4 separate regions of the Homo sapiens genome follow, and regions 2, 3 and 4 are each linked to region 1. The links come from fine-mapping of genetic effects on gene expression. A gene starts in region 1. Each other region holds a variant in brackets. All regions are shown on one strand. Distances are from middle to middle. Region 1 holds the start of IRX4 (iroquois homeobox 4). Region 2 overlaps LOC124901165 (keratin-associated protein 5-5-like). Region 3 overlaps LOC105374618 (a long non-coding RNA gene). Region 4 has its middle 32 kb from the start of CTD-2194D22.4.

Evidence for each region. PIP is the estimated chance that this variant, and not a neighbour inherited with it, causes the effect.
Region 2: its variant is the best candidate, but not a certain one, in a credible set for the expression of IRX4 in pancreatic islets (PISA, PIP 0.62).
Region 3: its variant is the best candidate, but not a certain one, in a credible set for the expression of IRX4 in skeletal muscle (GTEx, PIP 0.51).
Region 4: its variant is the best candidate, but not a certain one, in a credible set for the expression of IRX4 in esophagus mucosa (GTEx, PIP 0.59).

What each region holds. Positions count from the first base shown.
Region 1 is chr5:1,878,768-1,886,870 of GRCh38, reverse strand. It overlaps IRX4 (iroquois homeobox 4), which reads left to right and starts at 3,946. Exons shown (of 5, transcript NM_016358.3): 1 at 3,946-4,268; 2 at 4,812-5,063; 3 at 6,037-6,146; 4 at 7,039-7,367; 5 at 8,079-8,103. The coding sequence starts at 4,224. It overlaps IRX4-AS1 (IRX4 antisense RNA 1), which reads right to left and starts at 3,538. Exons shown (of 2, transcript NR_183257.1): 1 at 3,325-3,538; 2 at 2,222-2,391. RefSeq lists enhancers at 1,147-1,680, 2,230-3,082.
Region 2 is chr5:1,947,754-1,955,856 of GRCh38, reverse strand. The region is part of intron 3 of LOC124901165 (keratin-associated protein 5-5-like); the gene reads right to left. All of the region lies in intron 2 of LOC105374618 (a long non-coding RNA gene), which reads right to left. Among named protein-coding and RNA genes, the nearest start is that of CTD-2194D22.4, 64 kb to the right of the region's middle. RefSeq lists a silencer at 2,948-3,242 and enhancers at 4,440-5,639, 6,623-7,124. The variant C/G (reference allele first, on the strand shown) is at 4,090.
Region 3 is chr5:2,089,981-2,098,083 of GRCh38, reverse strand. LOC105374618 (a long non-coding RNA gene) reads right to left here. Exons shown (of 13, transcript NR_171679.1): 8 at 1,442-1,558; 9 at 292-845. Among named protein-coding and RNA genes, the nearest start is that of CTD-2194D22.4, 210 kb to the right of the region's middle. The variant G/A (reference allele first, on the strand shown) is at 3,835.
Region 4 is chr5:1,914,843-1,922,945 of GRCh38, reverse strand. No RefSeq gene overlaps it. Among named protein-coding and RNA genes, the nearest start is that of CTD-2194D22.4, 32 kb to the right of the region's middle. RefSeq lists an enhancer at 3,164-3,977. The variant C/A (reference allele first, on the strand shown) is at 3,667.

The sequences.
Region 1 (8,103 bases):
CCAGCTCAGGTAGGGAGTGGGCTCCGCCGCACAAACTTTGCGAGGATTGCTCTTGCGCTTAAGGGGACAAAGTTTGCTACCCGTCGCTAGGCTCTCCAGAGGCCGCTGCGTTTGCTGCAAGTTGCGGGAAGCAGGGTGCGCGGGCCGGCGCGGGGCGGGGGGTGGGGGGCTCGGAGTGGCCAGGCCTGAGTCCTGGACGCCCGGACGGCGCTCCGTCCAGCCTCAGGCCGTACCCAGGGAGCAAGCGGCGGGGGCGCAGCGGGAGAGAGGAGGGAGAGGGCCGCGGGCCCCCATGGAGGGCGGTTGGGAATCCAGAGATTCACCGCTTGTCCCTGTGGCTCCTTCTCCTACCACTGGCTCCGAGGGGGCCTCGGGGCTGTGAGGAAATGACCTGCCAACCTCGAGGTTCGCCAGTGCGGCGTCAGCGACCGTGAGGCCTCTCAAACCCACACCCCAGCCGGGTGTCCCGAGCGGTGGGCGGGCACAGGCGCCCCCAAGGTCTCTGGCCCCAGGTCTCAGAAAGAAAGGCCCTTGCCTGGTGCCCCGGGCTCCCGGCTTCGCCTTTGGCTGGAGTTAACTTCTCTGGGCTGGAAGGAGCTCCCTCCGGACGAGCTCTTGGTGCGGGGAACTGGTGGCCCCCAGGGTAACTCCTGAAGCACCAGGGCTAGGCTGGCCGAAGAAGGGTCAGGGCCCGGCCTGTCTCCCCGGAGGCCTTCCATGGTTCCGACGGCCAACGGTAACCCCGTCAAAATAGGCGACCCGCCTGCGCTTCGCGTTAGGGGCTGACCATCCCCTGCCTCCCCTGCGGCCTGCTCCGGCCCTGGTCCTCCGCTCTTCGGAGCGCTCCAGGCCAGCGGGAGCACCTCATCTCCCCGAAGCTGAGCCGGTGCTGTGTACTCCGGGAGCCGGCTGACTTCTGGCCCACCTGCTCACGGGTGTATTTAGTACCGGGGGTCCCTAGAGGGAGGAAGGCTCAGCACTCCGAGTCTATGCAGACGCGTTCAGCTGATACCTGAGATGCTGAGCGTCCTATCGTTGGTGAAAGGGACACTGGGTGCCTCCGCTCCAGGCTTGGCCTTTTGGTGAAGGCACTTGGAAAATATTCCAGTATTATCTATGGGAGAAGGGTGGCCCAGTGAGAATCCCCGGTTTGGGCAGGCGGGCCTAGGCCAGGCTACAGGGTTTCAGTGAGATGTCCCGGTGGTCGCCAATCCACAGGCTGGATTGACCCTGTGTCCTGGAATGAGTAGTGGGGCCTGGGTGAGGCCGGGCGGGTCAGGAGGCCTCCTGGGCAGTTGCGAGCTTCCCGAGGCAGGGTGACTGTGACTGGGCCCGGACCCCAGGCGCTGGGGCCTGCTGGCGGGCAGGAAGTGGAGCGTGTGTGTGCGGCGGCCTGGGAAAGCCGATTCAGAGGCCAGGTTTCTGGGTCACGGAGAAAGGGTCGCCCGCTGGTGGGGACTGGAGCGTCGATTTATGCACACAGGCTGGAAAGGCAAAAGAGAACAGGAGAAGGTGGCGGTGGTGGTCAAAGGAAGCCCCCGAAAGGGCCCCCACGTACTGGCTGCCCTGGGAAGTGGAGGCTGCTTCTCCCAGACTCTGCTCAGAAGATGAATGGCCGCCTGTTCTGGGGCTTCGGCTCCAGTTAAGCCCCGCCGGGTCTGGAAGGAAGGAAATGCACCAGCCTCAGGTCTGGGTGGGCTGAGCTGTTGCACTAGAGCCCAGAGGTGCAGGGCATAGGTGGCTGGGCCCCTGGGCCCTGGCTCTCCCCCTCAGCCGGCGGAGTGCTCACAGTCGCCGAGGCCAGGTCCCCGAGTATAGGTGAGGAAAGGACAAGCCACAGCTGAATGCCTCCCCTCTGGGGGTCTCTACTCCCCATCCCAGCCCTTGGCCCGGCTGGGCTCACACCCCTCCTTCAGCCGGGCCTCATTACCTGGAGAGAGCGAGTAGTTTGTAAACAATAAATAATGGGAAGTAGAAGGATGCTCGGGAAAAACCAGAAAACTGCAAGGAGTGGGGAGGAGGGAGGGTGGGAGAGGGGAGGAAGGAGGGTGGGGGAGGGGAGGAGCAGGAGGAGAGGGAAAGGGGTTGAGAGATTCATTTCTAGCGAGAAACCCCGGTGGCTAGTTTCTTATTATTTACAGGAAGGTGATATTAGCGATTCAGGTGAGAAAGAAAGAAACGCGGCCTGCCGCGAAATCAATACAGAATTCAGAAACAATTATTAATGTCATTTGACTCGTGTTCTTTATATATTTCTCGCGGCTACCGACGCTAAACTGTCTGAATAATTTGCATGGAGCGGCTATTCATTATTTCCGATGGTTTCCCTCTGCAAGCAGCTCGGACGTGGCCCGCTCCGGTCCAACGCGATCGGAGAACTCGTATTTTCATCTGTAAATTAAAGCAATTACGCAGCAGATATTATATGATGTGTACTGTGGTCTCCAGATAGTCATCAATCACCTTCAACCGAGCTGTCAAAAGAGCAGGCAGATTTCGTTTCTGGGAGGCAGGCTTGCAGCTGGGGAGAGGGCGAGGACGTCATCATTAATTAGAGGGTGACCCTGGGGCGATTCACAGGTCTGAACCCAGGAATCTTTCTGAGCAAGTCTGCACAACGCTGCCTTGCACGGCTTCCTTCCCAACTTACCACGGGAGGCCGGCCCAGGGGGCGAGGGCAACCGGGGCGAGTCCCGGTCCCGGAGGGCGATGGCGCAGAAGGCGGGGAACGGGTTCGGGATGGCCCGGGCGCCCCCTTGCCGCCCCCTTGCCGCCTGCTCACTGGCCTCCGCTTTGAACTTGGGCAAGGTCCCAGGGAGGGTACTGGCCGAGGGAGTCCTGGGGTGGGCGCTCGGTCCCCTCTTCCGATTGCTCCGTGCGCCCCAGACAGAAAGCTGGGCAAAATGGACAGGGGAGGGCGCCTCCGCCAGGCACCCAACGCCCCCTCCCTCGCAGCCAGCCCTGCGGGGCGCCGGGAGGGACGAGCTTAGCGGGAGGGGCCGGGGCCTGGGTTGAGGAACCTGCTCTTCCGAGCGCGCAGGGCCGCCCGGCAGTCCCCGGCTTAGCCGCGAGGGGCAGGGGGAAGCCGGCGGAGCACGGCCGGCGGAAAGGGGATCGGGGAGGAAAGTCGGGGAGGCGAGGTGGGGGCGGTGGGCTGAGCGGGAACTTAAAAGACCGCGGTGGAGAAGATGGGGCGTTCTCCGCGACACTCGGCTGCCCAGAGGTGCAAAGCCGGTGGGCGCACGCCCGGGGCGGCCCTACAGCCCTCGGGCCGCCAGTCTCAGGGTGTCGGGCTCCAACTAAGGCCCCGAAGCCCCCACGCACCTGAGGGCATTTTGACCAGCTCTTGCGGGCTGTCTTGCGGCCGCAGTGGGTTCTGAAAGTCCATTCCGGCGTAGGGTGGAAACCGGCGGGAGGCGTTGCTGATTCTCGATTAAACAATAGTGACGAGACGCGTGCGGGGCGCCTGCGAGCCCCTTCCTGCCACTCGGAGCAGAGCGCGCCAGCGCGAGGCCGGGCCGGCCGCCTGCGCAGCGCCGGGCTAATTTTAACTGTTGATTACATCTTCAGCGTGTCCTTTCATAGGTCTCATTTGTAATTGAGACGAATGATTACAGTGGGGCGGGAAGGAGCAGCTGCTCATTAATTAATTTCTAATTAAAAGTGCCTCTCGTTCTCGGGTGACTAAAGAGAAACACCGTTCGCTGGGCGATATTGACTCGGATGGAATTTATTTGCTAACGCCCGGAGGAATGGCCCCTCCGTCCACCGCGCGGCCGGGACTGTCCTGGCCCCTCCCGGCCTGAGCCGCCGGCGAGTGACCGGCGAGTCTGCGGCCAGGCCGGGCTGCGCGAGGTGGGGCTGACGTCAGAGCCTCCTCCGCTTCAAGCCGCGCACATCTGACTTGACGGGTTCGCGCGACTCGTTTTTTTTTTTTTCTTTTTCGTAAAATATGTATTTCTGTCGCCGCTGCGAGGCCGCTCGGTCCCAGAGCCCCCTCGAGCCTCCGGAATGCGAAGTTAAAGGAATCGCGGCGGCCACCGCTGCTCACTTTGTTACCCGGTTAGAAAAGTTTGCGGAGCGCGGGGATGGACTAACCGGCTCTCCTGCTTCGCCCTCCCAGCGCCTAGAAGCCTGCAGCTCCGGAGCAGTGGCCGCGCCACGCCGGCCCCAGCGCGCAGAACCCTGCAGGCCCCGCCCGTCCGCCCCGGGCCGCGCCCGCCATGTCCTACCCGCAGTTTGGATACCCCTACTCCTCGGCTCCCCAGGTAAGCGGAGCCCCGCCCCGCCCAGGCCACCGCAGGTGCCGGTAGGGCGGATGGGGCGGGGACGGGGGGTGGGGAGTGTCCGACCTACGACTGCCTGCGGCTTCCGAGCTAGCAAGGCCTGGGTCGCGCGCCCCTCACGCCCAACCCCTGCTCCCCAAACCCCCGGGGAAAGGCCGAGGCGCTAAGAAAATCCGACGGGCCGGGCCCGGGTTCCCTGATGTTTGAACCACAAGGCTCAGGCTGTGCCCCAGGGGAGTCCTAGGACCCCAAGGAACCCCTGGGGAAGGAGGCTTGGCGCGCAAATGGCGTCAGAGGCCTTGGAAACCCTCCGGGGAAGGGTGTAGGTGCTCGGCTGGGCCCCACGTGGCGGAGGAGGCCAGACGCGCACAAGCTAGTGGAAAGGGGCGAGCATCCTGGTGTGGACGGCGGGAGGCCCGGGGGTACTCGGGGCACGCCCTCGTGGGCGGCGCGCGGGATTGGCAAGGCCCAGGGCCCCAGCCTCCAGCCCGGCTTCCCGCCAGTCCTCGCGGCCTCTCTCTGCAGTTCTTGATGGCCACCAACTCCCTGAGCACGTGCTGCGAGTCCGGAGGCCGCACGCTGGCGGACTCCGGGCCCGCCGCCTCGGCCCAGGCGCCGGTCTACTGCCCGGTCTACGAGAGCCGGCTGCTGGCCACCGCGCGCCACGAGCTCAACTCGGCCGCGGCGCTGGGCGTCTATGGGGGTCCCTATGGCGGATCGCAGGGCTATGGCAACTACGTGACCTACGGCTCGGAGGCGTCCGCCTTCTACTCGCTGGTAAGTGGGGCATCCCTAGCCCTTGCCCTGCCCCTGGCCCTCGATTTGCCAAGCCCACTTTTGCCCCAGTAGGCGCGCCAGTCCGGGTCCCCGGACTGTCACAGAGGGGAGGCGCTCACCTTGGCTGCCTTCAACTTTGCGCCTCCCAGCCGAGACCCTCAGAACCCCACCCCCACCCCCTGGGACAGATGACCCGGCAGGTGGCCACTGCGTTTCTTGTTTTTGGTTCCCTACTAAATCCTCATCAGCTGGCAGATTCGGTCTGCGTGTGTTTCCCGCTTCTTCCCTCCTGGTAGATTTCCCTCCCTCATTCCCTGACCCCATTCTCCTCTCCCCGCCTCCTTCAGGCTCCTGGCCTCCCTCTTCCTGTCCTCCCAGCCCCTCTCTGACTCATCCTTCCTATCTCCCTCTTCCTCCCTCTCCCCTGCTTTCGCCCCCTCCTTGTTCCTCCCCCTCCTTGCTCCTCCCCCACCCTTGCTCCTCCCCCCGCCTTGCGCCTCCCCATTTCTCTCCTCCCTTCTCCCCTCCTGGCTTCCATCCCCTCGCTCAGCAGCCCCTCCCCTTTCTCCACCCCTTTTTCCTCCCCACTTGAGTGCATCCCAGGGCATCCCCAGCCCTAACAATCCCCACTCCTTCTCCCAGCTGCCCCCTATTGCCGGCCCCCAGTTCTTTCTGGCTTCCCTCCAACTTCCTCCTACTCCACATCCCCGCTCCCCACACTGCACCTCCTCCCCCCCGCCCCCCCCCACCGGCCCGCGCTCCACCACACACTGCTTCTGCAACTCAGAACATCCCCACTTCAGGTTTGCGAGACCAGGTTTTAAAGCAAGCGGGAAATCAGCTCCTTCCTGCCGGGGCGTAGGGCTGCCCAGGAATCCTTGCCAAGCCTTTGGGAGTGGGGGGCTCCTAGGAGAGAGGCTGGAGTGGGGTTGCCTCCCTGGAAACTGCGACCCCAGACTCTTGGCTCCCACAGAACAGCTTTGATTCCAAGGATGGTTCGGGATCTGCGCATGGGGGCCTGGCACCAGCCGCTGCCGCCTACTACCCTTACGAGCCAGCTCTGGGCCAGTACCCCTATGACAGGTGAGGACCCACCCCTCCTAACCAGCACTAGCCCCACGGGCCCTCTGCACTGTCAGCCACCAACTCCCCTCCACCATCATGCCCCCTTTCTGGAAGGCGGGAGGCAGGAAGAGAGACACTCTTAGGTCAGGCATGACCTGAGTCTGTGGTCTGTGGGGTCCAGCCTCCTGTCCCACCTGCTCCTGCACAGCCATGGTTAAAATGCTCCCCAGTCTCCCCGTCCCCCACGTTGTTGGGCCCCAGAAGTCCTAAATGTGCGGCAGCTTTCAGGGAAGTCGAATCTGGAAGGCCCAGTTCACGGGGCAGCCCGCTCTGCAGACTCTGGGCACCTCCTTCCGAGTGTCCACACTGCCCCTACAGTGGGAACAGTGGGGAACCCCTGGTGGCCCTCCTTTCTCTCCTGTCCCACTTTTGGACAGGATGCCCCACTTTCCTCAATGCAACCACTACAAATTTATCCAAAGACGGTACACTTAGGCCCCTTGGGTGCTTTCTCCTCCTGGGCAGTAATGACCCTTCCTGCCACACGTGTTACATCTCAGGGTGTGGGCTTACCTGTCTATACCTTTTTATGGTTTGAGGATCAAACGGCTAGGCGGTCATCCCCATAAAGGAATTGGCCTGGACCTCTCTGGCTTGGGAAGGAGCCCAGGCTCCCTGTAAGTTTAGTCAAATATAATCTTTGCCCTTTGGCCACAGAAGACAAGTGCCAGCAGGCAGCGGCACCTGGTTGGGGCTCGGGTCCTACCTGGGCCTTATGACCATGACCACAACCCCACGACGGGGAAGCAAAGCCCATCCTGGCATGCCCCTGGCCGACCCCCACCCCTATGCCCATGATGCCTGGGGCCCAGAGGGCCCAGCCTGAGCCCATTGCAGAGCCTGTCTCCAGGTATGGAACCATGGACAGCGGCACGCGGCGCAAGAACGCCACGCGCGAGACCACCAGCACGCTCAAGGCCTGGCTGCAGGAGCACCGCAAGAACCCCTACCCCACCAAGGGCGAGAAGATCATGCTGGCCATCATCACCAAGATGACCCTCACACAGGTCTCCACCTGGTTCGCCAACGCGCGCCGGCGCCTCAAGAAGGAGAACAAGATGACGTGGCCGCCGCGGAACAAGTGCGCAGACGAGAAGCGGCCCTACGCGGAGGGCGAGGAGGAGGAGGGGGGCGAGGAGGAGGCGCGGGAGGAGCCCCTCAAGAGCTCCAAGAACGCAGGTGGGTTGGGAGGTTGTCACTGGGGGCTGAGGCCCTGGAGTGCAGGCACAGTGCCTTCTCTGCGGTTCTAGGACGTCTTGGGGGTCCCAAACGCCGAGCCCCATGCCTAGGCGGTCACCGTGCAAACCGGTTCTGCCTCAGGCTACCAATGTGGGGACTGTGGTGGTGACCCCTGAGCATTTAAAGGAACTCAAATCACGTATAAAAATAGTAGGCCGGGCGCGGTGGCTCACGCCTGTAATCCCAGCGCTTTGGAAGGCAGAGGCGGGCGGATCACGAGGTCAGGAGATTGAGACCATCCTGGCTAACACGGTGAAACCTCGTTTCTACTAAAAATACAAAAAATTAGCCGGGCGTGGTGGCGGGCGCCTGTAGTCCCAGCTACTCGGGAGGCTGAGGCAGGAGAATGCCCTGAACCCTGGAGGCGGAGTTTGCAGTGAGCTGAGATCGCGCCACTGCACTCCAGCCTGGGCGACAGAGCGAGACTCCGTCTCAAAAAAAAAAAAAATTAGACACCCCCCTCCCCCATTGGAGGCCCCTGTGTTGCCAGTTTGTGACCTGGTGGCCTCTGGAGGAAATGGGAGACGCGAAGAGAGGCCCCGAGTGCTTTTCGTAGCGTCGGGAACAGGCCTCATAATGGTGGACGGGGACAGGGGGTCTGATTCACCTACCAACCCTCTCCCTCCACTGGCCACGCATTCTCTCCCGCAGAGCCCGTGGGCAAAGAGGAGAAGGA
Region 2 (8,103 bases), 69 kb before region 1:
ACAGTCCCCATCTCAGTGCACACCCCACAGACATCCACGCACCAAATGACCCCACAGCTCCCCATCTCAGTGCACACCCCACAGAGGTTCATGCATGTGTTTACCAGAGGACATGTGTGAGAATGCTCCTGGGTGGAGTGTTCACAGTATCCCCACCCTGGAAACAAGTCAAATGTCCATCAGCAGTAGGAAGCATTTGTGCAAGGCAACACCTCCACAACAGTCATGAGGAAGGAGCTGCACAGAAGCAAGGGTGAATTTCATTCGTATCATTTTGAGTTAAAGAAGCCAGATGGAAAATAATACATGATACATAATCCTATTCCTAGGAAGATGCAATTTCTTCCTAGCATCGATGGTCTTTACAATTTGGCATGTTTTTGCAGTGGCTGGTACTGGTTGTTTCTTTCCATGTTTAGTGCTTCCTTCAGCTCTTGTAAGGCAGGCCTGGTGGTGACAAAATCTCTCAGCATTTGCTTGTCTGTAAAGGATTTTTTTTCTCTTTCACTTTTGAAACTTAGTTTGTCAGGATATGAAATTCTGGGTTGAAAATTCTTTTCTTTAAGAATGTTGAATATTGGCCCCCATTCTCTTCTGGCTTGTAGAGTTTCTGCCGAGAGATCCGCTGTTAGTCTGATGGGCTTCCCTTTGTGGATAACCCGACCTTTCTCTCTGGCTGCCCTTAACATTTTTTCTCTCATTTCAACCTTGGTGAATCTGACAATTATGTGTCTTGGGGTTGCTCTTCTCGAGGAGTATCTTTGTGGTGTTCTCTGTATTTCCTGAATTTCAATGTTGGCCTTGCTTGCTAGGTTGGAGAAGTTCTCCTGGATAACATCCTGAAGAGTGTTTCCCAGTTTGGTTCCATTCTCCCCGTCACTTTCAGGTACACCAATCAGACATAGATTTGGTCTTTTCACATAGTCCCATATTTCTTGGAGTCTTTGTTCATTTCCTTTTACTCTTTTTTCTCTAAACTTCTCTTCTCACTTCATTTCATTCACTTGATCTTCAATCACTGATCCCCTTTCTTCCACTTGATCGAATCAGCTACTGAAGCTTGTGCATGCATCACGTAGTTCTCGTGCCATGGTTTTCAGCTCCATCGGGTCATTTAAGGACTTCTCTACACTATTTATTCTAGTTAGCCATTTGTCTAATGTTTTTTCAAGGTTTTTAGCTTCCTTGCGATGGGTTCAAACATCCTCCTTTAACTCAGAGAAGTTTGTTATTACCCACCTTCTGAAGCCTACTTCTGCCAACTTGTCAAAGTCATTCTCTGCCCAGCTTTGTTCTGTTGCTGGCCAGGAGCTACAATCCTTTGGAGGAGAAGAGGTGCTCTGGTTTTTAGAATGTTCAGCTTTTCTGCTCTGGTTTCTCCCCATCTTTGTGGTTTTATCTACCTTTGGTCTTTGATGATGGTGACCTATAGATGGGGTTTTGGTGTGGATGTCCTTTTTGTTCATGTTGATGCTATTCCTTTCTGTTTGTTAGTTTTCCTTCTAACAGTCAGGTCCCTCAGCTGCAGGTCTGTTGGAGTTTGCTGGAGGTCCACTCCAGACCCTGTTTGCCTGGGTTTCAGCAGCAAAGGCTGCAGAACAGCAAGTATTGCAGAACAGCAAATATTGCTGCCTGATCCTTCCTCTGGAAGCTTTGTCTCAGAGGGGCACCCTCCTGTATGAGGTGTCAGTCAGCCCCTACTGGGAGGTGTCTCCCAGTTAGGCTACACGGGGGTCAGGGATCCACTTGAGGAGGCAGTCTGTCCATTCTCAGAGCTCAAACACCATGCTGGGAGAATCACTGCTCTCTTCAGAGCTGTCAGACAGACACATTTAAGCCTTCAGAAGTTTCTGCTGCCTTTTGTTCAGCTATGCCTTGCCCCCAGCAGTGGAGTCTACAGAGGCAGGCAGGCCTCGCTAAGCTGTGGTGGGCTCCACCCAGTTCGAGCTTCCTAGCCGCTTTGTTTACCTACTCAAGCCTCAGCAAGGGTAGATGCCCCTTCCCCAGCCAGGCTGCCACCTCGCAGTTCCATATTGGACTGCTGTGCTAGCAGCGAGCAAGGCTCTGTGGGCATGGGACCCACTGAGCCAGGTGCAGGATATAATCTCCTGATATGCCATTTGCTAAGACCACTGGAAAAGTGCAGTATTTGGGTGGCAGTGTCCTGATTTTCCTGGTACAGTCTGTCATGGCTTCCCTTGCCTAGGAAAGGGAAATCCCCTGACCTGTTGTGCTTCCTGGGTGAGGCGATGCCCCACCCTGCTTCAGCTCACCCTCCGTGGGCTGCACCCACTGTCCAACCAGTCCCAGTGAGACGAACCAGGTACCTCAGTTGTAAATGCAGAAATCACCCGTCTTCTGCATCGATCATGCTGGGAGCTGCAGACCAGAGCTATTCCTATTCAGCCATCTTGGAACAGACCCATATGACTGTCTTGATAACAAATGATTTCCAAAGTATGTTATAATCCCATTTTCATGAATTAAATATTTCCCCCGAGTCTACTAATTTTCCCCCAGAATTTCCTAACACAGTAGACTGGAATTCTCTAAACATCCCTGCCTTACTGAAAATGAGATGAAACTATATTAGTTTTACCCCCAAAAGGGAGAGCCTGAGAGACATGAGCTTTCCTCCTCTCCCACCCCAGGTTGGGTGCTGTGTGTGGGATGCCCGGGTGGGTGGGTGAGGGAGAGGTGTGCAGAGAGGCGCAGGGCCCAGCGCACCGGAAAGCCAGGGTGAGGCTCATCAGACAGTAAACAGTGAGGAGGGCGGTCACCAGAAAGCCCCTATTTCCACAGTGGTGTTCCACTCTGGGCCTCCGTATATGGTGATCATGGGCGCAGGTCACCATGGCTTCAGAAAGGATCAGGTCTGTGCACAGAGCCCAGTCAGAAGCTACCGGGAAGCACTGGGAGCTCTGCTGGGTCTCACCTCTGCCTCCTCCCAGCCAGCTGCACTGAGACACCAGGGCAGCCTGGAATCCACAGATGCGCGGCAGAGCCTGGCCGAGCCATTAGAACACCCCGAAAACAAGTGTTTTAAGCGGCTGACTAAATTTCAGGTCTGCTCTTTGTCTCCTTCCAGGGAACCCTGAGATGAGTCCCGCAGGAAGCAGCTTTTCCCGGCTTCCCTGGAATCCAGGGGAGGCTCTGGGCTGCCGGATTGTCATTCAGATTGTAGTTCACAGGAAGCACCAGAGGCAAGGCTCCGCTTCTCCTAAACAAACTCCTGGGATCTGCACCGCCTGCCTGTGCTTAACCTCATACAGCGGTCATCCACTGCACCTCTTTATGTCATCCTGATAAACTCCTCACTCCGCGGACCCCGGCCTGCCAGGCCCCATCAGGAGAGGCAGCGTTGGGCAGAGGAGGAAGCTCGCTGGGACTCATTTGCAATTCCTGACATTTCTAAGGACCTTAGTCCACACGGGGAGGACAAGCACAGAGCTCGTGTAACAGTAACCGCCAAGGCCATGAGAAGAGGAACAGAAAGATTAGGCTGTTTCCTTAACTGTTTTTGAAGTTTCTAGGAAGAGCCCATTCTGCAGGACACCATCGAGACCCGGGGTGCACGGTGGCCCCTCCAGCCCCGCCCCTCAGCCAGGGACCCTCCATCCTGCTCAGGACCAAGGCACCCCCCGCCAGCCACATGCCCCAGGGCCCCAATCACCTCCTAGCATGTCAGGAAATTATGAAAGCAAAATTAATTTCCATCCTCTTCAGCTTAAAGAAAGAAAAAATGCTACATGGTTAATAGAACACAGGGAGCACATGCTGACATCAAACAGGGATGGCACAGCCCCCAGTGGGTTTGGACTTCCACGCCACCCACCCCCGCCGCACAGGTGCTGACAGCACAACCCGCACAATGGGTACACAGACGGTGACCATGGAGGACGCCTCCCTAGGGGACAAAGGGTGCTGGGCTGGGAGCAGGGACTGCCACGCCTGGTCTCACAGGCCACACAGGAGATGAGGAATGGGTGGAGGTGGAACGTTCTGGAGTCCTTGGAGGGAAGGGTGCTCAAATGCATAGCAGACGATGCACGTAAGCAGACAATGCACACACACACACAGCAGACAGCA[C/G]AAGCATGCACAGCAGACGACGCACGGCCCACAGCAGACGACGCACACACCCATAGCAGATGACGCCTGTGCCCATAGAAGACAATGCATGCATGCACAGCAGATGACACATGCACAACAGACAACACATGCACGCACAGCAGACGGCGCATGCATGCACAGCAGACAACACACACACAGCAGACGATGCACACAGGCACAGATGGCACACGCACGCACAGCAGATGATGCACCCGCAGCAGATGGCACACGCACAGCAGATGACACACGCACAGCAGATGACGCACGCACGCAGAGCAGACGATGCATGCACAGCAGACAATGGACAATGCACACATGCACAGCAGACGGCACGCACACACAGAAGATGACACACGCACAGCAGACGGCACACGCACAGCAAACGACACACGCACAGCAGACGACTCACGCACAGCAGACGGCACACGCACAGCAGACGACTCACGCACAGCAGACGGCGCACGCACAGCAGACGGCGCACGCACAGCAGACGGCGCACGCACAGCAGACGGCGCACGCACAGCAGACGACTCACGCACAGCAGACGACGCACGCACAGCAGACGACTCGCACAGCAGGCGACGCACGCACAGCAGACGGCGCACGCACAGCAGACGGCGCACGCACAGCAGACAACGCACGCACAGCAGATGATGAACACACCCACAGTAGAGGGCACACGCACGCACAGCAGATGACACACGCACAGATGACACACGCACAGCAGATGACTCACGCACAGCAGATGACACACGCACAGATGACACACGCACAGCAGACGATGACGCAGGCACAGCAGACGGCACAAGCACACAGAGCAGATGACTCACGCGCCCACAGCAGACGACACACGCATGCACAACAGATGACACATACACAGCAGATGACGCAGGCATGCACAGCAGATGACACACGCACAGCAGATGATGCACACACAGCGGACGACTCGCGCTCAGCACTGGGTGTGAGGGTAGAGACTACGCCATCCATCTTTGCCTCTCCCAAGCATATTCAATGCGCAACCATAACCACCTCTCTCGTGAGAGCGGCGGGCACTTGGTGAGGTCGTGAAGCTGCCGAGGGGCTGTTTCAGAGCGCATGGTGACTCTGCATGTCCCCGGGCAGGAGGCCAGGGCGGGTGCGTGGTGCGGACCCAGACGGGAAGAAGGAGCTGCCCTTTGCGAGCCGCCTGGCAGGGGTGGGGAGAGCGGCCGCAGCGGTTCCAGGACAGAGGCGTCTCCCAGTGGTTGTGGGATGTTTTGTGCCGCTTCACACAAAACAGCACAGGATGCCCTCGGGCCCAGAAGTCGTGGCATGGGCTGGGAGCAGAACCTAAAATGCCCTCATCTCCCTTGGTGTCCTGGAGACTTGGGATGTGGTGAGGGAGAAGCTTCATCATCCTCACGCTCATGGGAGTGTCCCGGGAGCCCCCTGGGGGCTGGTCAGCAGCTGCTAGCTGCACTCTCAGGACCAGCTGGGCTGGCCGGTCCCTCTTCCCTCCACACCGAGAGGCCCTGGTGGCCGATCAGCTCCCCGGGACTCTGTGAACTTGGAGCTGTCCTGCACGTTTTCTGCACCCCTGGAGCCCCGCTGAGGACCTGGCACTTGACGGAACCCCCAACAAACGATGGAGCGAGCGTGTGGTTCCGTGAGCATGGAGAGGGCAGGTGTGAACCACGTGGGGACACTTCCCAACCCGCTCATAACCCCTAGCACCCTAAAGATTTGTGAGTTAAGTTTCTAGTGTGTGAACAAACCCAAGTCACTGCCTGAAAAAAAGCTGACAAAGACCAGATTGTGATTATTGGATCGAAAAGGCCATAAGAGTGTACTTGGATGCTAACGCAGAGGAACAGAAAGTCATTCCCTCCCACAGGAAGTCTGCAAGGACCACACTGTGTTGAAAACTTTAACTCCAATTCTCCCCAAACATTTTTCAAAGGGCACACAATATAAAATCAATTTAAGAAATCATTCAATTCAGCCACAGCTCTTTTCCCGGCATTATGTTACATATGCTAACAGGTCAGCTTAAGTAGCATTTCTTACATGTTGTCCACTAGAGACACAAAGATGAACAGGACCAGGACTTGGGGCTTCCCTGAAGACCCTGGGACCCCAACCAGGGAGAGCTGCCCGAAGCCCGCCGGAGGCCGTCTGCAGGGGTCTTTCCTCACACACTCCACTGTGCCCCTGGAAAGCACCGACAGCCAGCGTCATGGAGTGGGTGCCCTGGGCATGGCAAGATCACAGACAGCACTGCCCTGGGCGGGCACCCCCATCCCAGGGTGTAGGTTCGCATCGCCCCACCCCGCAGACAGGGTACTGAGGCCCACGGTCGCCAGCTAGCCGGGGCCAGAAACTACGCTACGGTCCAGCCGGTCTGAGCCCCCGCAGGGATGCTGCAGCCCTCAGGGCAGTTCTTCAGAACTCATGATGCTGACAGCCCTAGCCGGGGTGGGACACCCAGGAGCACCCAGCTCACCTGTGACTTTCAGAACTTCCAAGGCACCACACTGGGCACAGGACCAGGGCCTTAGGACTCAGCCTGGAAACACAGAAGGAAGGACCACAGACAAACCCGGAAAGGGCCCAAGAGAATTGGCTGCATGTCATTCAGGACTTGGCTGTGCCGGAGCTCCGTGTCCACAGCTGAGCAGGCGGCCGGGAGGGCCCTGCACGGATTCAGTGTGGGCATGCAGGGTGGCAGACACTCGGCACAACTTGTCACCTGATGCGAAACACTCGCCAGGGCTAAGCCAGTCCCGTGTGACTCCCGAGAAGGCAGCACTCCGTCCCTGGCGCACGGAGCAGGCGCTGGCTGAGAGCCCGACACGGGCCCGGAATTCATCAGTCACGTGTTCCGAGGATTCACCTAAACTTGCCTGTGAATCCCCAGCTTTGCAGTGCACGGTGCCTCAGAGTAAACACACCCGAAACTTCAAGGGATGTGCACCCGGTATTTTGTTTTTTGGACCAGTTGACGTGGTAACACCTGCCCTGTTAGAGTCATCCATGACAAGTCTGAACGCTGCAGGGTGTTGCAATAATTTCTGAAAGAATGGAAAACACTCCGTGTTAGGATAATCTGACCCCGATTAATCCTGACAGAGGCTAAACTCTTGAGGCAAAAGCTGAGGATGAGAAATGAATACACATCTTTAAACACAACCCAACACGGAGGTCTCATGGCTATGCCCACGCTCTCCTAAGCACCTTACGGAAAATAAAATTCTGGGCTGATTTTTACATTAAATGAATGAAAATCTTAAAATGACCTGTGATAATATAACTAAATCTAACAGCACGCTGTTTCTTCTGGGGGTTAGTAGACTGAAATGTCTGTAACCTACTGAGGAAAAGCAGACAGAGTTCTGAGGAAGCACCCAGCCTCCCGGAACACAAATCCCGCTCAAAACAGGAAACCCAGCAGAACGGCCCTCCTTGATTGCTGCAGGCCCTCGGGAAAAAACCTCCTGTTGTAAGTGTGTTCTGAAGTGTTGCAGTGACAAAAGGTTTTCCCCAAGGGCGTTTTAGGTTAAAATAGATGAGACCACGGGAGAAACATTTAGGATCCTAATTAAAGAGACTGTAGAGGCCAGGCGCGGTGGCTCACGCCTGTAATCCCAGCACTTTGGCAGGCCGAGGCGGGCAGATCACAAGGTCAGGAGATCGAGACCATCCTGGCTAACATGGTGAAACCCCATCTCTATTAAAAACCTACCAAAAAAAAAAAATTAGCAGGGCATGGTGGCAGCTGCCTATAGTCCCAGCTACTCAGGAGCCTGAGGCAGGAGAATGGTGTGAACCTGGGAGGCAGAGCTTGCAGTGAGCCAAGATCACACCACTGCACTCCAGCCTGGGAGACAGAGCGAGACTCTGTCTCAAAAGAAAAAAAAAAAAAAAGAGAGACTGTAGAGGGCTGCAAATTACAGTCACTAATGATCCAGGTCAGGCTTTACCCCAAAAAATACCATCGCAAAGGAAGGAAAC
Region 3 (8,103 bases), 210 kb before region 1:
GGGGCTGGGGGAAGAGAGAGAGAAAGAGGGAGAATAAGAGGAGAGAGAGAGAAAGGGAAAGAGAGAGAGAAAGAGAAAGAAGGAATGAGAGAATGAGAGAGAAAGAGAGAGAGGAGAGCACTCTGTTCCCACACTCAGGTCCCTTCAGGAATGAACACAGGAAACTAGGCTGGACGTGAGGTCACTGTGCCTCATTTATCGCCTGCCTCTAGGAACTGCCACCCTTAGGTCATCTGGGAGATGAGCATGGGTTTTGTGATTTCATGAGGGAAGGAGAGGAAAGCAACCCACCTCAGCTCAGCAAAATCCTCATTCCAGCTCTCTGGATATCCTCGCACTCTGGATCCCCTGTGTGGCAGAAGTCACAGATCACCCAGAACAGGGGAACCTGCATTTTTCTAGCAAATTTGCTATTCCTGCCAGGTGAGCATCCTGCCAGGTGAACATCCTGCCAGGTGAGCATCCTGCCAGGTGAGCAGGTGCCTTCTCTGGCAGATCAATGGCAGCCTTGTGGCTTTCCAGCACCCATCGCCCCCTCAGCCCACTCCATTCTATCACAGGAAGAGCAAATCACATTTTGGGAGATGCTTGGTACCATAGAGGGCATCTCCTTAGGCACAGGTGCTAGGACAGTGCGCAGGGTCACCTGCGGCAGAGCCCACCATGGACCCCCTCCTCTTCTTGGCCCCACAACACCTCATCACAGGTCCTGAGGTCCTGGGAGATGCAGACCCTGGCTTTCCAGCCACGGCAGCACTCAGTCACTGTAGACGTGGTCGCCAGGGGACGAGGTCACAGACATTCTTTTGGTGTCGTCCGCTGGAGATATGATCACATGCTCAACCCTGAAGCAAGAGAAACAAACTGAGAACAGAATTGGAGGCGGGAACGGGGAGAGCCGCTACGATCCACCAGCTCACCTGTGGAGAGAGAACCAAGGAAAAACAGTATTGATTTTTTTTACAAGCCAGTGCACAGATTTGTCAGACAAAAGAATAGAGATGTCAACCCCTGGACCCGCTCTCCAGCACGGCAGGCCTTCAGGCGGCCAGAGCCAAGGCGGCACTCCGCGACTCCTGCACTGGCTGCAGAGGGGATGGGCAGTTTGATGAAAGAAGGAAACGCCAGCCCTCGCACGGATATGCGTGTCAGTAACTCCCACCTGAGCAGAGCTCAGAGATGCTTCCAGCACAGCCCAAGAGAGGTGGCTCCCTGGTCTCAGCATCTGCCGAGGTTACCTCTCTCCTCTGGGGGCTGTGGGAGGCGCTTCTGCACGGGGTCACAGGAAGGTTTTGGATGTTTACCTGAAGGGCGGTTCTGTTAGAAAACTCCAAAACCAACGGACATTTTAGATTTCAAAGAGAATCCAGTACAACGTATTTTCATCTCCTAACCCAACAAAAGGGAATCTGAGCTGATTATTAGAAGTTTACTCTTTTACCTGGCAGGGGGCAAAGAGCATAGACATCCCCAGGTCTCCAGATGCACAGGTGGAGGAATTCGTCCACTAACGCACCCTCGGAACAAACACCTGAACACACAGGAAAACTCGGTGTATCTGGAGAAGGAATGTGTTCGTTAATTGCATTTTTGAATATCTAGCTAAGCACAACATCCCTTTAGAGTCCACCTGTCCTTTAAAATTCTTTCTAAAATAAATCTGACAATTTTCCTGATCTGCCATGCTGAATAGTTTGACGACATTGATCATTTGGGGAAATCGTGGCTGTCAGAGGCCATTCAGAAAATAATATTATGAGGATGAAGGACCACAGGTAGGGAGCCCCATAGAAGAGTTGGAACTGCTTCATTTTTGTGTTTACTCCTTTATTCAGGCTTGATAGGTTTCTCTGAGTTTTACCTTCCTCTTTCTAAGAAGGAAACTGCTGTCATGTAATTTAAAGTTCCCGTTGGTCATTTCTAATGAATAAAAGGTTACGAATGTCGAGTAGTAGTTGGGTGCCATGTAAACTAGTTCAACCATTGTGGAAGTCAGTGTGGTGATTCCTCAGGGATCTAGAACTAGAAATACCATTTGACCCAGCCATCCCATTACTGGGTATATACCCAAAGGACTATAAATCATGCTGCTATAAAGACACATGCACACGTATGTTTATTGTGGCACTATTCACAATAGCAAAGACTTGGAACCAACCTAAATGTCCAACAACGATAGACTGGATTAAGAAAATGTGGCACATATACACCATGGAATACTATGCAGCCATAAAAAAGGATGAGTTCATGTCCTTTGTAGGGACATGGATGAAGCTGGAAACCACCATTCTCAGCAAACTATCGTAAGGACAGAAAATCAAACACCACATGTTCTCACTCATAGGTGGGAATTGAACAATGAGAACACATGGACACAGGAAGGGGAACATCACACTCCGGGGACTGTTGTGGGGTGGGGGGAGGGGGGAGGGATAGCATTAGGAGATATACGTAATGCTAGATGACGAGTTAGTGGGTGCAGCACACCAACATGGCACATGTATACATATGTAACAAACCTGCACATTGTGCACATGTACCCTAAAACTTAAAGTATAATAATAATTTAAAAACAAATGGGTGGTCAACATTCTAACCTCTAAAATAATAGTTTCTGACAATACGATTGCTACATTTTTGAAAATTATCATAGCTAGGTCATCATACTTGGCATATACTCAAGTATGTTCTTTCATGTACATTTCTTAAACATGCATGTGTCTCCTGTGACATTTAGAGAAATGTCTCCTTAGACGCAATATTTCAAACATTAGAAAGTGCGGTCGCCTAAATTGCATTCACAGAGCTCCCTCGGCGGGATTCCTGAGTGCGATCCTGGGCGATCCCCCCACCGCGGTTTCTGGAAGACTCTGATGAACGCATCCACCAATGGGTGGGGAAATGAGGTCAGCATCCTGTGGTTCAAGGATCCTAGGATCAGTGACTGGGAGTTACAGGTTTGGGCATCACTCAGCATAAGTGGCTGTGAAACCCTAGGGCAGCGTCCCCTCTGAAAGCCCATCTGCTCGGACATGAAGTGCAGAAACTTGGGGTGAGTTGGGACACAGCTGGCTGCCCTGCCCAGCCTTGAGCTTTGGTTTTGCAGGAAGCCGGGTCCCAGCTAGTGGAGCGGGCTGCACTGTGGCCAGGGCGAGGGCCCAGCCCGGCTCCCCACCCACCGTCTGGTGACTGGGCCACGGCGCTGGGACTCGAGCGCTCCTAGTTCACAAGCCACCACCTCTGATGGGGAAACCAGACAGACGTGGCCAGAACTGGAGCACACCTTGTCCTTTCCCAGCCAGGGGACGCCAGTGTTCCTGTGGCCGGGGCCAGGGCTGGCCTGGCCGCCTCCTCCCCGATCCTGTCTCCTCTGGTGATGAGTTGTGTTCTCTTGGCAGTGGAACTCCCTAGAGAGTGGAAAACGTCATGCACTGACAACAGAAACAAAGTACAATGTTATCATGCAGTCAATATTTGATGGCCAAAGGCACAGTAAGGAATAATCTGAGTTAAAATAAAGCAGGGAATTGGATACATCAAAGAGTTTAGTGTTATCAGCCATTAAGGAAGGCAGCAGTGAGGCCACCACACAGCAGTGGCCTGGACAGACAGCCCTCCGTGCAGGCGTGTGCCTGTGAGCACCTACACATGCGTGGGGCACACCGGCTCCGGCGTCACACACTCCTGGACGTCCACTCTTGGTGAATCCTCACACAGACCTTTCCTGCCGGGATTAGGGCTTCCTTTCGGTTTTGTGTATCATGTGACACCCTCTGTCACTTGTGAGTGGCTTCCCACCATCTGAAAAGGTGCAAACTCATGGCCCACATCAAC[G/A]ACGCCCCGTGCCAGGACGCTCTCCCATGTGAAAGCTGGCTGAAGTCCTCGGTCTGCCCACGTCAACGACACCCCGTGCCAGGACGCTCTCCCATTTGAAAGCTGGCTGAAGTCCTCAGTCTGCCCACGTCAAAGACACCCCGTGCCAGGACGCTCTCCCATGCGAAAGCTGGCGGAAGTCCTCGGTCTGCAAGGCCATGAAGGAAAATTCTAGTAACTAATTCCCACCAAGTCATCATTTAAGAATTGTTTTGAAGTTCTGCTGGAACACAGTGTGCATGGGTTTATATTACATTTTTGTTAGCTTTGTAAGTGGTGTATGAATCATGTTTGTTTTTATAAATGGTTGCTCTGGAGTTGACAATACACAGCATTAACTTATCAAGAATACCCAAGAATAACAAATAATATGGCATCACTTCCCATGTAATTTAATAATCTTACAACTGCCTGGTTCCATTTCCCACCTCCCAGCCCTTGTGCTATTGTTAGCAGACATTTTGCTTCTACTTATAAACCCCAAATGTATTATTATTACTGTTTAAAACAATGTTCAATAAAGAGATTTCAAAATACGGTAAAACACGCTTTGTATTTGCTGATGCATTTTACACCCACTCCTGTTCCTTTGTGTAGACCCTCATTTTTATTTCTTATCATTTCCCTCTGTCTGGAAACCAACTCTAAAATGTCCTTTAGTGCCTGGTGGTGCCGGCTGCTGACAGTGGCGTCTCTCTACTTTTGTATGTCTGAGACAGTCTTCACGTTGCTTCTATTTTTTAACAGCCTTATTGAGGCTGAATTTATATAAGAATTATACAATTGATATATACATTATACACATTTAAAATATAAAATTGGATAGATTTTTAAAGATGTAAAAACCCATAGAAAACACTGAATCTATCAAAATCAGGATATTATCCATCTCCTTGGGAATTTGCTTTGTGATAATGTTTTGAAATTGTTCCTTCTTACTCCTCCCCTCTCCCCCACCCTCCCTAGGCAATCACTGATTAACCTCTGTCTCTAGAGATTCATTTGCATTCTCTGTAATTTTATAAAATAAGATCATAATTATGTATTATTCTTTGTCTGGCTTTTTGGCTCAGCATAATTATTTTGAGATTTGTCCATGTTGTATGTCTCAACGGGTTTTTTTTAACCTTTATATCACTAAGTATTACTCCCCTGAATGGATGTATTAGTTTTTATCCATTCACTTGTTGATTAACATTTGGGTCATTTCTGGTTGTTAGCAATTACAGGTAAAGCTTCCATGGACATTTGTGTTCAAGTCTTTATAAACACACATGTTTTCATTTCTCCTGGGAAGTACATAGGGATGGAATTGCCATGTCAGATGGTAGTTATGTGTTTAACTTTTGAAAAAAAAACTATTTGCAGTATATTCATAACTGTGAATACACTTAATGTCACCGAACTATGCAATTAAAATAGGTTCGATGGTAAATTTTATGTTGTGTGATTTTTACTACAATTTTAAAAATAAAAATAAATAGATTTGAATGAAAAAAAATTAATGACAACACGTCGCCTCTCTTAGACTAGTCATTGTGCCATAATATCCATTATTTGCATCTATTACTAACGTAGTGAATACTTTTGAAGATCCATAAATGCTCTTAGATCAATAAATTCAGCTATTTCACTTTTTAATTACAGTATGATCAAGCATTTAGATCAATAGTAAAAAAGTCTTCCTTTGACTGATTGTCTCATGTATTAAATAGTAAAAACTGTCTTCATTTGACTGTTTCATGTATTAAAATATTATTACACATTATATATGATTTAAAAAGGAAATATACTATATCAGACCTTCAGGAAAATTTGACCTAGTTTACAGGAAACAAAAGATAATATAATTGAAAATTCAACAAAAGTACCCAATACAAGATTTTGACCAACAAGTATAGAGTATTATATTAAAAGATTCTTCACAATAGGCTGAGGTGGGCTTCGTGCCTCTGGTTTCTGCTGCGGTCTCATCTCAGTCTGCCAGGAACACTGGAAGCCATTTAACACCCGCTAAGATTTGCTTCTCCTTCTCCAGTCCTTTCTGATGTGATGTTATTCACACTTTTCTTTCAAGGACAGAATGCAGCTACTCACTTTAAAAACGTGCTTTGGAGCAGGAACATCTAGGGACACTGCTGCCTGATGGCCACTTAAGTGCTCAACCAAGCAGCTGTGTGTGGCTTGTGTGAAAGACTCAGAAGCAAGCTGCCAGGTGAGAAGGTCAGTGGGAAAAAGGAAAACTCATGTTAAATATGTGTGAAATGTGTGTAGAAAAGGCAGGCAGAACAAAGCTGCCTTAGAAATTCTATGAAGTCTAACACTTTGTCTAACACCCACATATTAAGTATTACACAGTAGTGTTTTGTCATTTATTGTATAATCCATACTTACTTACCTTTTGTTTGAAAATGTTTATATAATTTTGCAATAAACCCCTATACCATTAATAGGCTCAAAAAATAATATTAGGAGATTTTAAATAAAAATGGAAAATACAAAACTAAAAAAAATATAAAACTTTTCCAAAGCGGTTGTAACATTTAATATTTTAACCAGTGACATGTGAGCATTCCAGTTCCTATACAGCCTCACCAGCACCTGGCGTCATTAGTCTTTTTAATCTTAGCCATCTAATAACTGTGCAATCATGTCTCATTGAGGTTTTAACTTGCATTTCTCTAAGAGCTAACGGTATTGATCATCTTATCATGGACTTATTTTCCATTCACACATTTTCTATGGTGAAGTGTCCATTCAAACCAATAGATCATTTTTAATCACTGTCTCTTTTCATTTTATAGAGTTTTAACAGTTATCTAGCTAATCTGGTTAAAAGTCCTTTGCTGTATAAGAGAAGCAAATATTTTCTTCCAGCCAATGGCTTGTCTTTTCATTATACTAGCTGTGTTTTTCAAAGAGTAAGTGTTTTAATTTTTATGAAGTCATATTTATCATATTTGCTTTTATAGACCATGCCTTTCTTGTCATATTTAAGAAATCGTTGCCTAACTCAAGGTCACGAAGAATTTCTCCTAATTCCTTCCAAAAATGTTATGGTTTTAGCCTTTACATATAAGGCAATAATCTATTTCTGTGAGATGTATGGATCAAAGTATATTCTTTGCATGTGGCTATTTAATTGTTGTAGCGCCATTTCTTTAAAAGGCTGCCTTTTCTCTGCTAAAATGCCTTTGCATTCCTTTTAGAAATCAGTTATCTCTATAGGCTGTTGTCATTTTCTGGACTCTCTATTCCATTCCATTTATCTAGTTGTCTAGCTTGATGCCAATATCACACTTTCTTGATTATTGTAGTTTTAAGTCTTAAACTAGTGTTCATCCTTCAGCTTTATTCTCTGCTTTCAAAGTTGTTTCCACAATTAAAAGCCCTTTGCAATTTCAAATTAATTTTAGAATAAGTTCATCAATTTCTACAAAAATAAAAGCTTGCTAGTACTCATTGAGATAACATTGAATATGTAAATTTGGGAAGAAATTAAAACAATACTGAATTTTTAATCCCAAGAACATGATATATCTCTCCATTTGTTTAGATGTTCCTTAATTTCTCTTGGTGATGCTTTATGGATTTTAGTACACAGGACTTGCACATTTTGATCTGATGCTATTGTAAATAGTCATTTTTAATTTTAATTTAAAATAATTCATTGCAAGGATAAAAAAGATTGCTACTTGTATATTTACATTGTATTAAGCAGTCTGCTAAACTCATGAGTTTTTGTAACTTTTGTGTACATTCCATAAGTGTTCTTTTACAGATGATTACTATGTCATCTGAGAAGAAAAACAGTTTTACCTGTTCACTTACAATCTGGATGCCTTACATCTGTTTTTATTTCTTTTTGTGTCATTTGGGGTTTCATTGATTGATTGACTTTTTTTATTTACTACATTAGTTATAATGTCCAGTACAATGTCAAGTACAAGTGACAAATAAAACATCCTTGTCTTGGGAGAAAAGAATTTAATGTTTCACCATTAAAGATGTTAATTATATTTTTGCGTTTGGGGTTTTTTAATCCTCAATTTTTTTGTTAGATGCCCTTTATCATATTGAGGAAAAGTTCTCTTATTCATAGTTCTCTAAAACATTTTTTAAATTAGCAATTGAAATTGGTTTTGGTAAAAAAATGGTTTGGAATGTTGAGACAGTCATATTTTTTTTCCCTAGGGTGTCTATATAATAACTTGCATCTATTTTTTATGT
Region 4 (8,103 bases), 36 kb before region 1:
TGGACGCCGCATTCACTGGAGACCCTGCTCCACCGAGTGGAAGGAGAAGGCGCCTCGTGATGCCTGGTTGCCCAGACCCCATCCAGTCATTTGCTAAATTCCCACTGGCTCCGAAGAGAAAAGTCTGGAAGTGCAGTGGCTGGAAACCGGAGCCCACAGTAATGGCCCCGTGGTCTGCTGAGGTTTTGCCGATGGTTTCCAGAATGGGAGGAGGGGTCCCTGAGCAGCAGCGGTGAGTCCCTCAGAGGGCCGTGGCCGGGCACTCGCTCAGACGGAAGTAACAGGGGTTTTCTCACCTGGCGCTGAGGATCCAGGTATGCTAATGGAAGGACACGTGAGCCCAAAGTCCCTCTAGGTCAGAAACTTCCTAAGCAACTTTTATTCTTCCAAACTCTGGTCTTCAAAACTACAGGTGTAAATCTAAGCACATTTTCCAATGGATTATTTTCTTTTTTTTTTTCAGACATAGTCTCAGTCTGTCGCTCCAGCTGCAGAGCAGTGGCACGATCTCGGTTCACCGCAACCTCTGCCTCCCGGGCTCAAGTGATTCTCCTGCCTCTGCCTCCCGAGGAGCTGGGATTACAGGCTCGCACCTCCACGTCCAGCTGATTTTTTGTATTTTTAGTAGAGACGGGGTTTCACCATGTTGGCAAGGCTGGTCTTGAACTCCTGACCTCGTGATCCACCCGCCTTGGCCTCTCAAAGTGCTGGGATTACAGGCATGAGCCACCGCGTCTGGCCTTCCAGTGGCCTTCATTCCAACATTGGGGGCTGATCACAGGTGAGGACCAACTCTGGATAATTTAAGTCAGCTACGTCAACCCACCAAACTTCCATGAAAAAATACTCAAAAGACACAAGGAGGAACAGGAGGCTCTGAAGCCTCCTCGGCCAGCGTTGGCTCTTCTTTGTTAATGTTGAGACTTCCTGAAGTGAAGGTGCACACTCCTCAGCACTCTTCCGGGTGGGAAAGCCGAGGAAAAGGCGGCCACACGCAGACCGGCACACAAGTGCGCGTCACAGCGTTATTCATGACAGACAGAACGGGAAGCCAACTGAACGTCCATCAACTGGGGGATGAGTAAACAACATTTAGCCCGTCCGCCCCGTGGAACACCGCCCCGCAGTAAAAAGGAAGCAACTCTGATTCAGGCCGTGTGTGGATGAGCCTCAAAACATGATGCTAAGTGAGAACAGTCAGGTCCGTGAGAGGCCATACTGAATGACTCCAGCTATGTACAATCTCTAGAAAGGGAAAAGTTATAGAGGCAGAAAACCACAGCGGCAGATCAGCGGCTGCCTGGAGCTAGGGGCGTGGAGCGCGGATTGGGAGGGGAACAGGAGAGGTTTTTCAGGGGAGCAAAATCGAGTGTTTTAAAACTGGATTGTGATAAATTGATTAAAACCCATCAAACAGATCTCTGAAAACTGTGTGGCATATGAATTATACCTCAAGGAGACTTAAAACTATACTGAGGGACGATTGACAAACAGGACTTCTGTATCTCACCAAACTTTCCATCAAGCTTGAAAAAGTTATTTTCAGACAGCCAAGATTTAAAAACAAACAAACAAAAAATGGCATCCATACCCCGTTTCGTAGGCAGCTACTGAGAGACATGCTTTAGCAAAACATAGAAGAAAGAGATGGTAGGCCGGGCTTGTTGGCTCACACCTGTAATCCCAGCACTTTAGGAGGCCGAGGCAGGCAGATTGCCTGAGCTCGGGAGTTCTGCAACCAGACTGGCCAATATGGTGAAACCCCGTCTCTACTGAAAATACAAAAAATTAGCCAGGCATGGCGGCGTGTGCCTGTAATCCCAGCTACTTGGGAGGCTGAGGCAGAAGAATTGCTTGAACCCGGGGGGCGGAGGTTGCAGTGAGCTGAGATGGCGCCACTGCACTCCAGCCTGGCAACAGAGCAAGACTCCATCTCAAAAAAAAAAAAAAAAAGATAGTAAATAATGAAACAAGATACTAAATCAAGCCTGACAGGAGAGCCAGCACAGAGTGGAAACTCCCACAGTGGGAACTCCAGGGACCCACCAAGGCAGCGCTGCCAGAAGAAGGGGGCGGTGTTCCTGGTGGTTAGGAAGCTATCAGATAATTTAATATGTGTGGACACTTAGAATCGTTATTGCATCAGTAATTATGTGGACAGATAATAAAAAAGGAAAACAATCATGCAAATATTAATTCCAGGAAAAATGAAAAGCTATATAACAGAAGACAAAGAATCACAGTGCATAACTGAGCTTAGCAGTAAATAAATGTTATTTAGCCAAAACTAGTGATAGACGTATGAGGAAACAGGGAGAGTCGTGCTAGAAAAAAGATGTCGAGTGTAAGAGACTTAAACTTCAACTACCACAGGAAGAAGTCCATAGATACGGTCTAAAAACAAGACATCAATAAGTAGTAGGGTATTATATTATTGGAAATATAGAGACAAGTCGCTGAAGAAATAAGTAACAGAAAACAGTGGTGCTGGGGAGCAAGACTCGAGGGCATGTGGCTGGGATGAGGGGCTGGATTGGATTTTGTTATGAACCTTTTAGTAGTGTCTGACTTTTTAACTATGCTCAGATTATTTTTTCAAATAAAACTATTTTGAAAAACAATGGCCTCAAGCAAAATAAGTAATTACAATCAACTTTCTCTATCATTTCAAAAGAAAAAGGACATTTTAATGTCAAAAACACTTGGAAAAACAAAAATTAATGTGAAGAAACACCAACTCATTTTTTCTTACTTGCCTCATTCTGCTGCAGATCAATGAGCACTTCCTCAGGGACTGGTGGCCACGCCCAATCAGTGCCATCCTCAAGAAAATGGTCAAGTAGAGGGAAGAAGTCACTCCGGGGTGAGGCTTTCAACAAGGGCCTTTTTTGTCTTCCTCCCACTTTTCCCACCTCTTGCCTGGAATGCAGAGGTGGTGGCTGCAGCCTCAGCAGCCACACCAGGACTGTGAAGCACACTTAGGAAAGACGCTGGATGAGGCGGGGTGGAAGGATGGGAGGAGCCCCAACACCGGAGGAGTCTGCAGCTCCCATGTAGCCCTGGGCTGTCCACCTCCAGCTTCCTTTGGCATGGGAGAAGCTGTGTGCAGTTTTATTTAAGCTGCCGTCATTTCCAGTGTCTTTTACCAGCAGCCACACTCTCATCTTTGTGGATGTGGCTTTGTGGACCATCTGTTCTACTTTTCTTCTTGCCTAGTGGCAGTCCAAGCTTTCCCTCTGAAATCTCCAAACAGGAGTCCATTTCTTCACCAAAATCTGTGTACATCCTCAGAAGCCAGGCAAGGAGCTAAGGCCTGGAATTCATCACTCTCTAAAGTGGCACTTTCCTATTTCAGCACACCCTCATTAAGAAGCCTTTTTGAATATTGACCAGTGAACCGCATTTTCACCGATTCCCACCCACCCACTGCCCTAACTCTGTCCTTCAGCCAAAGGTGCTGAGTCACCACGCTCTTTCCCAGAGCAGCACTGGATACGGGGCTAAGCAACACCCGCAGCACTCCCAGCTTGACAAGTCAGGTGTGAGTGGTGCTGGGATGCTCCAGAGGGTGTTCTGTAGGCAAAACCAGACCTGAAGACCCTCCGGCTGCAACTCTGTTCCAGCAGAGCCGTGCCCCTCTCTGCTGAAATGGCAGCTCCCAGGGCA[C/A]CTGCTCTGAGAGGTCGGGCACCATGGTCGTGTTGAACCATGGCCCCCAATAAATGCATCCACATCTTAGCAGAAGTGCTTTAGTTGAGGATGTGAAAGGGGGAACGTATCCTGGATGAGCTGCGTGGGCCCTAAACCCAGTGACAAGTGTCCTTAGGAGAGTGAGGCAGAGGTGGACAGACACAGGAAAGGGAGGAGACCACGTGAGGGCAGAGGCAGAGACAGGCCATGCAGCCACATGCAGGCACACGGAGGGATGCCTGGGCCACCAGAACCTGGGAGGGGCAGGAAGGAGTCTCCCCTGGAGCCTTCGGGGATCGAGGCCAGCGACACCTTGATTTCAGACTTGCAGACTGCAGCACCCTGGGAAGGCGATCCTGCTGTTTAAGCCCCTGGTCTGTGGTACCTGTTACATGGACACAGGGCACATGTGCACCTCCTCACATCCCCCCAGCCCCATGCACGTTTAGGGATGCTTCTGTGCTGCTGGGCCCCAGGAACCCCCGCGCTGACCCGGCTGCCTCCCTGCACTCAATCTGGGAGTTGCAGTTTTGCCCCAGGTCTGCACCCCAGTCCCCCAGAGGCGTGCAGTGGGACAAACAGCCCTCCATGGGGGGTCCTCCCTCTGGGGATCAGGGACAGACTCCCCAGTGCCAGGGGCTGCTGCTTAGGACCACACACTGTCCCCAGACACCCTCCCTCCCCGGCGCTCCCAGCATAGCACTCAGGATTCTCAGCCAGAGAGAGCCCTCGGGGCTCTGTGTCCGGGGCCCACCGTCCTTTGATCCCCTCGTGGCCGGGCATTCACATGAGCAGCCGTAGAAACTTTGGGTTCCCCACAAATGGCCTGCTCTACCCACTTGGCACCACATAGATGGCTTATAAGCCTCTATTTCCATGATTCATTATTTTTCTCATGAAAAGTTATCAGTTCTAAAGAGTCCACCTTGCAGGGATGAGGGTCTGCCTGGCAGGATGCCATCTGTACCTGACCCCGGACACACCGCAGAGACAGCCTTGAGAAGCCAGCACACCCAGGATGAGCCGAGGGCCCTGAGGAACGTGCACTCAGATGCACTGGGAAAGCACAGAGGTAAGGATTACAGAAAAGATGGAAGTCGCTCCTAACAGCTGTGTTTGTCCAGTTTAACTGACTTAAATTTCAATTATTTTAGTTAAGACAATGTTGCCTTTTCAAAGATTAGATGAATCTGATCTTTGTTTTTGCACTTCCTGTCTTTGCAAATAAAGTTTCATTGGCACAGAGCCATGCTGACGTGTCACCTTTGGCTGTTTTTACGCTACAACGGCAGAGGTGAGTAGTTTAGACAGAGACCATATGGCTCTCTAGGACAAAAGTGTTGACTACCTGGCCCTTTATAGAGAAAGTTTGCTTACCCTTACGACAGACTAACGAGAGGAGAACAGTGGTACAGGCGCAGTGCAGCCACAGCTCGGAACACCTGGCAGTGGCATCCTAGTAAATAGGGTTACATCATAGTTATTAAATAAGCCTGGAAAGGGGGGAGACACGGCCAAAGGTCTTGTCTGTGGCTCTCTCTGAATGGTGGGATTACAAAGAGCTTTTAATTTTTTCTTGAATTTTTTTCTGTAGTTTCCAAACTTTGTACAATGAGCATTGTTATTTATTTATTTATTTATTTATTTATTTATTTATTTATTTATTTGAGATAGAGTTTTGCTCTGTCACCCAGGATGGAGTGCAGTGCTGTAATCTCGGCTCACTGCAACCTCCGCCTCCCGGGTTCAAGCGATTCTCATGCCTCAGCCTCCCAAGTAGTTGGGATTACAGGTGCACACCACCACACCCAGCTAATTTTTGTATTTTTAATAGAGACGGGGTTTCACCATGTTGGCCAGACTGGGCTCGAACTCCTGACCTGAGGTGATCCACCTGCCTCGGCCTCCCGAAGTGCTGGGTTTACAGGCGTGAGCCACCGCACCCAGCCTGTAATTTTATTTTAAACAATTTTTATAACAGTTGCCATCACCTAGAACTGCCCCGTGCGGCCGTATTGTCCTTAGGAGGCAGAAGCTTTCCTTGAGGGCATCAGGTAAGGAGACCAAGGGAGAGTGGAGGTGGATGAGAAGCTGTAGGAGGCACCCTACAGAGCGGGCAGCTGGGAGGAGACAGAGGGCAGGGGAGAGCGAGGAGTGAGCAGGGAGAGGAAGAAGGGAAGGGTGGAAAGGGAAAGAGAGGGAAGAAGAGACGGGGAGAGAGACAAGGGGGAGGCACAGGGGGCGACAGGAGGGAGAGCGAGAAGCAGCCCAGGGCGGCTGCGTCTGTGAGTCTCCAAGACGAACAGTCACAAGAGCTGGTGTCCACCCGGTTCTCAGGTACCAAGTGCAGCCCATGTCCCTCCCTCTCCAGGGCACTAGCGGCTGAGGAAGTGGAGGCACGGCATGGAGGAACTTGCTGGGGCACTACACCAGGAGAGGCCAGCTGGGGTCTGAACACAAGGCCTGAGAGGGGCAGCCGCCAGGTTTACCGCCTGGCATTGCCCGGTGGCAGGCAGTGGGGATAGAGCAGAGCTGAGGGACGGAGGTCCCAGGACACCTCTGGCTTCGTGAGGCCACATTTCACGGAGAATCCGCCCCTTCTGTCTCTGGCCTGTGTCATGACGGCATCGCCCATCTGGACCAGTGGACAGGCATCCACATTGTAATCCCTGGGCCTGGCCTCGGGACAACATTCCATGAACCCTGTTTCAAAAGTGTCACCTCCAAGAGGCCTCCGAGGAGGGACAGCAGAGGGGCATGGCCACGTGGGATCCGTTCGCGAGTCCAGCTGTGGAGACGTGGGGCTGAAGGAGGTGCCCACGGCAGGGATGCCCCTCTTTCCTGGGAGCCATCACTGCTCCCCCTGGGCTCCCACTCCATGGCTAGTTCTGAAACGCCCCTGCAGGGGAAGCTGCCCCCTCCTGTGTGTCGGGGACCACCCCAGCCTCATCAGCCGGCTCATTCCAGCCCATGCTGCCTGGTGGCCCCACATGGTACGGAGCCTCCTTCTGGTTCCCGGAGCAGGGAGGGCTGTGGGCATGGGCTCACTTGCTTCCTCTTTGGAACCCCCCCACCCCAGAACCCCACACCTGGAGAGCCCTGGCCCAGCCCCTGGGACGTCCCGCCAGTCCCTCCTCTCAGCAGGGTACAGGTGGTTAGGGCACAAGCACAGGTACCCCACAGGTTGTCTGTGCACGCCGTAGGTGTGGGTGGGCGACAGCTTTGCTTGTCCCCAGTGAGCAGACCCGGTGGTCTTGCAACCTGAGAGCTGCAAGGCACCCTCCATGTCCTCAGGGCCTGATGGAGATGGGAAGGGCCAGGCCACGTGAAGGCCATCGTGCCCTCAGTATCTTGGCACTCTGGAGGGCCAGGATGTCACCCTTCAGAGACCATCTTGGGGGAAGTTCTGGGCCAAGTCTTGGGGCACCTCCCTCCCGGGGCAGCTCTGAGGCTTCTGTGGACCCCGCCCCCCACCCCACTCTGCCCCCACTGAATGAATCAAGGGCGGAGACCGAAGCTCTTACTCCGAGGCAACTCAGCTTTACATCTGGGGCTCCGGAGCCATCACGCTCCTTGCTGAGGACTTTGTGCGGTGGGGAAGCTCCATGCAGTGAGGACCCTCGAAACCTTCCAGCCTAAAGAGCCCGAGCTAGAAGAGGCCTCAGCACATGGGGGCAGGAGGGCTGCTCCCCAGACGCAGGGCGGCCCCCATGCAGCTCCTGCTCCTGTGTGGCCTGTCCCACCCATCCCCTGCTGTCCTGACTACTTGGGGGCAGCAGTGGGAGTGGGGGTGGATTCTGTCAGGCATTCAGCCTGCAGGGGCCAGGGAGGGTGGACCAAAGGCTTCACACACCACATGTCAGAATAGAGGTTCCAGGCACAGCAGAGCGTGGCCACAACTCTACTTCCAGGCCAGCTCTGGAAATAGAAGAACATATGGCAGGATTGCAGGACCTCTGGGGGTGAGGAGAATGATGGGGGACCCAGAGGTGGGGGTGAGAGTGATGCGGGGACCCGGGGGGAGGTGAGAGTGATGTGGGGACCCAGAATAGGGAAACCCCTATTCTGACATGTGGTGTGTGAAGCCTCTGGTCCACCCCTCCCCAGTGAGAGCAATGCGGGGACTCAGGGGGAGGTGAGGGTGATGCGGGGACCCCAGGGGGAGGTGACAGTGATGTAGGGACATCAGGCAGAAAATTCAGTGACTCGCACTATGGGCCACTCAGCCATAAATGTGTGCCACAGAGTCCAACAGGGACACAGCCACAGAGATCCATGGAAAGAAATGCTGGCATCTTGCTCTGTGGCTATACCTGCCCATCCCTGACTTCTAAAGGTTTTGGGAGGATTCACTTGTTTGGAGATTTGAGGCCTGCTTCACTCACCTATTGCTGTGTCCTCTCCACTTCCACTGAG